2 separate regions of the Homo sapiens genome follow, and region 2 is reported to be linked to region 1. The links are microRNA targets in miRTarBase. Many come from high-throughput screens and were not tested one by one. Region 1 holds a microRNA gene; the other region holds the end of a gene's coding sequence.
Evidence for each region. Region 1 holds the annotated microRNA hsa-miR-4444 (CUCGAGUUGGAAGAGGCG, at 3,178-3,195, shown strand). A microRNA usually pairs through its seed, bases 2 to 8, with sites in the 3' UTR of a target mRNA and lowers its output. Matches are read on the target gene's strand: a 7mer-m8 pairs with bases 2 to 8, a 7mer-A1 pairs with bases 2 to 7 and ends in A, and an 8mer does both.

Region 2: miRTarBase lists GALM as a target of hsa-miR-4444. Seed matches in the 3' UTR shown: 7mer-m8 at 1,588-1,594.

What each region holds. Positions count from the first base shown.
Region 1 is chr3:75,211,341-75,215,735 of GRCh38, forward strand. It overlaps MIR4444-2 (microRNA 4444-2), which reads left to right and starts at 3,136; the gene lies at 3,136-3,209. It also overlaps the pseudogene HNRNPA3P6.
Region 2 is chr2:38,732,786-38,737,180 of GRCh38, forward strand. GALM (galactose mutarotase) reads left to right here. Exons shown (of 7, transcript NM_138801.3): 7 at 703-1,980. The coding sequence ends at 780. It overlaps LOC124905993 (a long non-coding RNA gene), which reads right to left and starts at 765. Exons shown (of 3, transcript XR_007086292.1): 1 at 681-765.

The sequences.
Region 1 (4,395 bases):
AAAAGAAAAATTAAAACAATTTAAAACCTTAAGTTTATATTGATACTTTTCATTACAATTCAACATAATGTTTTTTTTCTAACCTTTCCATGTATGTCACTCCCATCTCCAACAGTAAAACACCAACTTTTCACTATCAACAATTCATTTTATTTAACTAGAATCACATAAAGTAGCTTCATAATTGTTAATTCATGTTAGAGTGAGAAAACAGCTACAAATTAGAGTTCAATACATTCTTAATTTTTTTAGTCTTTAATATAAGCATATATAATCAAAGCACTGTGCTCAAAATTTACTCAAGTTAGCTCCCTCCCTCACCCCTTTAAGTGTGGTTATGTTATTTATTTGCAATACAAATGGTTAAAATCTGGAAAAATGTGAACATTAAAATAAATAGTGAAAGTAGTGAAATATACAAAATATAGAATGAAATATAACAAGTATTCATAAGTTCATAATGATATAAATGATGGATGAATGAGATAGAATTCTTCCTTACTGTAGAGTGTAAACAAATGAGATAGAAGTAATAATGGAATTAGAATATCACCAGAGCAATAATTATTTTAGGCAGAAGCATGAACTATCATTAAAAATAATGAGTAAAAATTTGAAAATAAACAGAGCATTTCCCCAAAAGATGCATATTAAACTCAAAATGGAAAAAAAGTAGATTTCTAGTGCAGAAACTTGGCAGATACCATCTTACTTGAGTGATCAAAGTCAAAATCACCATTAATGATGCTGTGTCTCCTGATATGATGTACTGAGAAGGCAACAGCACCTCTGAGGTTGATACAGTTTGGCTCCGTGTTCCCACAAAAATCTCACGTGGAATTGTAATAATGCCCATGTGTCAAGAGTGAGACCAGGTGTATGTAATTCAGTCACGGGGGCAGTTTTCCCCATGCTATTCTCATGATAATGAGTGAGTTCTCATGAGATCTGATGGTTTTGTAAGCATCTGGCATTTCTCCTGCTGGCACTCTTTCTCTCTCCTGCCACTCTGTGAAGAGGTGCCTTCCACCATGATTGTAAATTTGCTGAGGCCTCCTCTGCCATGCAAAACTGTGATTCAATTAAACCTCCTTTTTAAAAAATAAATTACCCAGTCTCTGGTATTTCTTCATAGCTGCATGAGAATGAACTAATATAGAGGTATTGCTACCAAAAATGTAAATCAAATCATAAAGAATGTCTGAAAAACCCAAATTGAGGGACAGTCTACCAAAAGAATGTCTTACACTATTCAAAAATATCAAGGTAATGAAATATAAAGAAAGCTCAATAAACTATTACAGATTATAGAAAACTGAATAAGCATTTTAGCTGAATGCTAAATCCTGATTTTTACTTTTCAATGTGATGACTCCCTCAGCAATGAATTTGAGGTGACAAGCACTATTTTAATTTCATTTTGTTCTCAGTTTTTATGTCTTTTTGTGGATGGAGGAAATTTCTAATATTTCAAAACTGAAGTCATTATTATTTAACAGATTTTGTTAACTTTTAAAAATATATTTCTGACTCTTGCACTTCTTTGTACCATCCAAAACAAGACACGATTTACTTAGGACTAATGTTCTTTTGTTAGGGTGGTTCTAGGGCTTAATAACACTAAAACCTTTATGACTTTAAAATGAAAAATTGATTCAATTTCTTCTCAGCTAAAAGCTTTCTTCCTTCTAGACACCACTTTTGCTTCTGAAAACTACTATTAATGTCTCAATGTGCTTTTGAGAGACACTAAACATAAATACATAGTTGATTGCTGAAGCAACTCCAAGGTGTTGATCATAAGCTGGAGATTTTTTTAGTGTAGTATCCTCTTTGTCAGAATTTTTATTTTCTTGAAATTTAGTGCAATAGCATAAAACTATTTTTATAGCTGATACATAATGTATGATTGGCCATAAATCTGAACTCTGTCTGGCATTGGACAGATACAAGTACCACAATATAATAAATTTATTACAATGACTGACTTTAATAGCCCCTCATAGTCTAAGTTCAAAGCATTAGAGCTTTTGGAATGTTCCACACTTTCCAAGTTCCAGCTCTTCCGTCACCTGCACCTGTTTAAATGGAGATAAATGAATTGAAAAGTCAGTTAATGTATAAATGTTCCGTTTGCCCACTTCCACATGGACCACTGGCAGTCAAAAGCCCGCTGACACTGCCACATCATAAAACTCCTAAAGTCTTCTCTTACTGATAAAACAAGCTAAGATTATTTAGCTCTCAGGGGATACTGAGTTAAAAGAAAATTGAGCTAAATGTCCTTTGCAGCTCTTAATGTAGTCAACATTAGATGAATTTTCCTCTGCAGTAGTCAGCCTTTACTTTATCCTGATGTGTGTTGTGGGCTGGAGCTTCTAGCTGATGGCAAGCTTAGGAAGAAAGCCTCAGCTGACAGAGCACTGCAACCTCTCCCAAGGCCACTAACTCAGAGTTAATCCAAGGCAAACCCAGAACCTTTACTGGAACACTGTTGAGGAAGGAGATGTCTCTCCTTGACATGAAGATTTGATGAAGCCTGGAGCACCTGGAGGCTGCCAGGAAAAGAGATCCTAGTCCTACTGTAGAGAAGAACTGAGTCATACACTGTGGGGAGGGACCTGGTCTTGAGGACATCATTAAATATCCTAGATCCAGCTATCCCTGAAGATTTTCTATTCCTAGAGTTTTCATTTATGTGAGAAAATAGATCCCTGCCCCCTTCTCATTTCTACTGAAGCCAATTTGAGGTGGGTTTTAAGTGTCTTGCATCAAAAGTGTCATGAAGAAGAGACTTCCTCATTCTATTGAAATAAAGATTGTTAAACTTGAGAGGGCTGTGATAAGGCTGTTGAAAAGCACGTCAGGAACATTTGGGAATCAAGGGAAGAATCTGACTCAAAATATCAGGGAAGTGACTGGTTACATATTTTGACAAGACTCCTCAGATATTTTGGATGATATCTTACACTTCTAGTATAAAAGGCCTGTGTTTAAGCCCTTGATGCAGCATTTAATGTGTACAACCTTGCCAAGTCATTTATTTTCTTAGGGCCTTGGTTCTAAAATGAAAATCATTACCCCTCTTATCTACTTTAGACTGATATAAGAAACAAATCGGGGAAAACGCGTCACGTGACGACTGGCCCCGCCTCTTCCTCTCGGTCCCATATTGAACTCGAGTTGGAAGAGGCGAGTCCGGTCTCAAAATGGAGGTAAAACCGCCGCCCAGTCGCCCCCAGCCCGACTCCGGCCGTCGCCGTCGCCGCCGGGGGGAGGAGGGCCATGATCCAAAGGAACCAGAGCAGTTGAGAAAACTGTTTATTGGTGGTCTGAGCTTTGAAACTACAGATGATAGTTTACGAGAACATTTTGAGAAATGGGGCACACTCACAGATTGTGTGGTAATGAGAGACCCCCAAACAAAACGTTCCAGGGGCTTTGGTTTTGTGACTTATTCTTGTGTTGAAGAGGTGGATGCAGCAATGTGTGCTCGACCACACAAGGTTGATGGGCGTGTAGTGGAACCAAAGAGAGCTGTTTCTAGAGAGGATTCTGTAAAGCCTGGTGCCCATCTAACAGTGAAGAAAATTTTTGTTGGTGGTATTAAAGAAGATACAGAAGAATATAATTTGAGAGACTACTTTGAAAAGTATGGCAAGATTGAAACCATAGAAGTTATGGAAGACAGGCAGAGTGGAAAAAAGAGAGGATTTGCTTTTGTAACTTTTGATGATCATGATACAGTTGATAAAATTGTTGTTCAGAAATACCACACTATTAATGGGCATAATTGTGAAGTGAAAAAGACCCTTTCTAAACAAGAGATGCAGTCTGCTGGATCACGGAGAGGTCGTGGAGGTGGATCTGGCAATTTTATGGGTCGCGGAGGGAACTTTGGAGGTGGTGGAGGTGGTGGCAGCAGAGGTAGTTATGGAGGAGGTGATGGTGGATATAATGGATTTGGAGGTGATGGTGGCAACTATGGCGGTGGTCCTGGTTATAGTAGTAGAGGGGGCTATGGTGATGGTGGACCAGGATATGGAAACCAAGGTGGTGGATATGGTGGAGGTGGAGGATATGATGGTTACAATGAAGGAGGAAATTTTGGCGGTGGTAACTATGGTGGTGGTGGGAACTATAATGATTTTGGAAATTATAGTGGACAACAGCAATCAAATTATGGACCCATGAAAGGGGGCAGTTTTGGTGGAAGAAGCTCGGGCGGTCCCTATGGTGGTGGTTATGGATCTGGTGGTGGAAGTGGTGGATATGGTAGCAGAAGGTTCTAAAAACAGCAGAAAAGGGTTGAATGAGAACCCTACTTGCCTAAATGAGGAATGTCTTTCCTACCATCTAAAATACGAAGGTTTTTGGCTGGGTAAGGTTTGTAGT
Region 2 (4,395 bases), not on the chromosome of region 1:
AGTGCACACCTGTGGCCCCAGCTACTTGGGAGGCTGAGGTGGGAGGATCCCTGAGCCTGGGAGGTCAAGGCTGCAGTGAGCCATGATCACACCACTGCACTCCAGCCTGTGCAACAGAATGAGACCCTGTCTTTAAAAAAAAAAAAAAAAAAGGGCCAGGTGCGGTGGCTCACACCTGTAATCCCAGCACTTTGAGAGTCTGAGGCAGGTGTATCACTTGAGGTCAGGAGTTCGAGACCAGCCCGGTCAACATGACAAAACCCTGTCTCTAGTAAAAATAAAAAAATTATCTGGGCATGGTGGCAGGTGCCTGTGATCCCAGCTACTCTGGAGGCTGAGGCAGGAGAATCGCTTGAACCCAGGAAGCGGGGTTTGCAGTGAGCTGAGATCGCCCCACTGCACTCCAGCCTGGGCAACAGAGCAAGACTCCATCTCAAAAAAAAAAAAAAAAAGCCTACACCTTACACCAGATTATAGATCAACACACTGCTTCCCTTCATCAGGAAAGCCTTCCTTTAACAAAGTGTGCTTTTTTCACTCTGATTAAAGTTCTTTATCTCACTATGAACCAATCATAAACAGTTCCCGCACTGGCAGCCATCCACAGAGCACTGGTCTAGAAGCCCGTCCAGAAGCACACCCAAATGGTTAATGTTGCAGCCTGCGGTGTCAAGCATCACCTGTGTTGTTTCCCCTTCACAGCCCCGCTTCCCTCCTGTGCTGCTGAGGCCTGGTGAGGAGTATGACCACACCACCTGGTTCAAGTTTTCTGTGGCTTAAGGAAGTGTGAAGATATGATCCAGTCCAGGGCTAGGCTCAGCCACCTGTCTCCTGTCCAGAAAAAAGGTGAAGATTAAGAAGCTTTCAGAATGATTCTATGGATTAAAATCATACAAATGGTGGCTGTTCTGAGAATCAGTCTGGGTATTGATTTCCTTTTCCAGTGACTGGCTCCAGGCCATGTCTAATGACCAGCTCGATTCCCTGTGCAGTTCAGAGGGCAAGTGAACCCAACCAACAATGTCGTCATCTAAGCCCTGACCCTAGCCAGGGACTCCCATGCTGCTGTTGGCTCCATCTCTCCACACTGCCTCTTTCTTTTCAACTTTTTGCCCTTCCTTTCTTTAAAGCTATTCTCACATTGCTTTTATTTCCTCCTCCTTCACCTCCAACCACTGTCAGCAGCACTCTGGAGTTTTCAAATGTCACATTAGCCTCACCCTGCATGCTAGGAGATGGACCTGTCTCTATACAGCAGTAGATGATTGATAAGTGAGGAAACTGAGGCTTACAGAGGTTGAAGACCAACAAGCTAATAAATAAAAAGTTGAGGCCGGGCACGGTGGCTCACGCCTGTAATCCCAGCACTTTGGAAGGCCGAGGCAGGCGGATCACGAGGTCAGGAGATCGAGACCATCCTGGCTAACACGGTGAAACCCCGTCTCTACATAAAAAATTAGCTGGGTGTGGTAGCACGCACCTGTAGTCCCAGCTACTTGGGAGGCTGAAGCAGGAGAATCGCTTGAACCTGGGAGGTGGAGGTTGCAGTGAGCCGAGATCATGCCACTGCACTGGGCAACAGAGCAAAACTCGATCTCAAAAAAAAAAAAAAAAAAAAGGAAAAAAAAGCAGCTCTCTCTCTCGGGAGAGGGAGGGGACTTCCGAGAGGAAAAGGCCTGCAAGAGCCTTTGGGTTAACTGAGAAAGCACAGCCCGGCCAACGCTTGGGAAGAAAGACAGGCAAGCACTGGAAACAGGAGCTATTAGGGTGAGGAGAGAGCCTTGCCTTTCACAGCACAGTGAGGATGACATTGCACCAGGGACAGAGATTGTATGTGACAAGGCTGGGGCTCCTTCTTTCCTAGACAATCAAAGTATCAGTGATGGGTTTTGGTTGGTGATTTTGAAAAAAAAAAAAAAAAGTATGTTATACTAGTGTATGCTGTACTGAATTGAAATAAAACCAAAATCTGCATCTTCAGAAGACTTGTTCCTTTACTCAGCTTGAAATCTCTCAGGCGTGGACCTTTGGGAAATGGACCAAGAATATGGGTGTGTTCTGGATTCTACTTTGCCCTCCAGTGGGAGCCCTGGCATTTTCCTACCTAACAGTTAGGAAAGCTATCTCAGTGGAAGTAGCTTTCCACACCTCCTCTTTCTTTGTAACCGATAATAAACCAAAGATCTTGTTTATTTTTTAATTCACTTCAGCATGGATTTTTCTGAGCACCTGCTCTGTACACAGCCCTCTGCTGGGTCTGTGAAGGGATTCAGGTCAGGTGTGATGCTGCCCACAGCAGCCAGTCAGGTGAGGTACATGCTCAGTTGTCTTCTCACTGGTGAGGTTAACTTTGGTGACTTGAGCAAGATGCTGCCTGCAGATCTCTCCACTCTTATTAAAGTTACCAATATATACATTAGCCAAGAGGCCTCAGAGGTGAACTATTAAGCTGACTGCAACCTAGCTACCAATTTGATTATTAAATTGTTCGACGCAGGGTTCTCATACTCTAGGTGCCAGCAATCATTTAGGAAATCCCAGAGAAGAAGAGAATGAACATTTTCTTATTCACAAGTGTAGAGTTGCCAGTTGCCCCTGCTTTCTGTATCCTGACCAAAAGTCACAGAGTGCCTTGACCTTTGTCACCTAGCCAGCTGCAGATTTTTCCTAGCAGGCTTGAACCCAAACCGGGCCTTGAACATTCCCAGGCACTGATAAATCTGTCTAGGTTGTTCCCTAAAACACTAAAAGAAACTGGCACTGGGCCGGGCGCAGTGGCTCACGCCTGTAATCCCAACACTTTGGGAGGCCGAGGCGGGTGGATCACCTGAGATCAGGCATTCAAGACCAGCCTGGCCAACATGGTGAAACCCCGTCTCAACTAAAAAAAAAAAAAAAAATACAAAAAAATTAGCTGGGCATGGTGGCGGGTGCCTGTAATCTCAGTTAGTCGGGAAGCTGAAGCAGGAGAATTGCTTAAGCCCAGGAGGCGGAGGTTGCAGTGAGCCAAAATCATGCCATTGCACTCCAGCCTGGGTCACAGCAAGACTCTCATTGCACTCCAGCCTGGGTGACAGCAAGACTCTGTCTCAAAAAAAAAAAAAAAAAAAAAGAAAAAGAAAAAAGAAACTGGCTCTGGCCCTGAGCCAAATTCCTTTAACTGTCATAGAAACTCCCTCACTGCTGATATACCTGGGCAGAACACCCCTTTTCTCTCTCAACCATTGCTGCAGCACTCTGTAAGGAAGTTCCTCTAATAAATGCTTTGGATTGATCACCCTGGCGCTTAGAGCTTCTTTCTTTGAAATCCCAGCCGGCCCTATCTCGAGATAGTTTGGATCACTCCCTGATGGGGTCTCCCCTGCTGCCACTATGGGGGCGATTCCAGCCCTGGATCCACTGAGACAAAACAAAGAAATGTAACAACTACAAACTAGTTCTTAATGTAATGGCCTCTAGGTTTGAGAATGCCAAATTAATTAATTAATTAGCCAAATACTTTGTTTTCTTCTGTCCAAAAAGATTATTGTTTTTATAAGAAGCCAAGTCTACAGTAGTCCAAGTAAGGATATTCATTGCCTGTAGGGCAGCTGAAATAAGTTACTGGCCTTTAAATTAATGGTGTTTATAAAAGCAAGTAAAAAAGGCGGCCAGGCGCTGTGGCTCACATCTGTAATCCCAGCACTTTGGGAGGCCAAGGTGGGTGGATTGCCTGAGGTCAGGAGTTTGAGACCAGTCTGGCCAACCAGGTGAAACCTGGTTTGAGACCAGTCTGGCCAACCGTCTCTACTAATAATACAAAAAAATTAGCTGGGCGTGGTGGCATGCACCTGTAATCCCAGCTACTCAGGAGGCTGAGAGAGGGAAATTGCTTGAACCAGGGAAGTGGAGGTTGGAGTGAGCCGAGATCTCGCCACTGCACTCCAGCCTGGGCGACAGAGCGAGACTCTGTCTTAAAAAAAAAAAAGGCTACATTTGTCACACCATGCATCTGAGGGAAGCAAAAATTTAGAGAAACTCTTTTTGTGGCAGCAACCAATCTGTCCTTTTTCATGAAACACATAACTTTGCTTGAGAAGCCCTTCCATGTGCTTATAAGACATAGATTGTGACATGTGACAGCATGTCAGCATAATTGGGTGATTTTATGATAAAATCGCTGAAGGCCCCAGCAAGAAGTAAAATTTTAGAAGGTGCTGGACGCGGTGGCTCACGCCTGTAATCCCAGCAGTTTGGGAGGCCAAGGCGGGTGGATCACTAGGTCAGGAGTTCAAGACCAGCCTGGCCAAGATGGTGAAATCCCGTCTCTACTAAAAACACAAAAATTAGCCAGGCATGGTGGCAGGTGCCTGTAATCCCAGCTACTCAGGAGGCTGAGGCAGATAACTGCTTGAA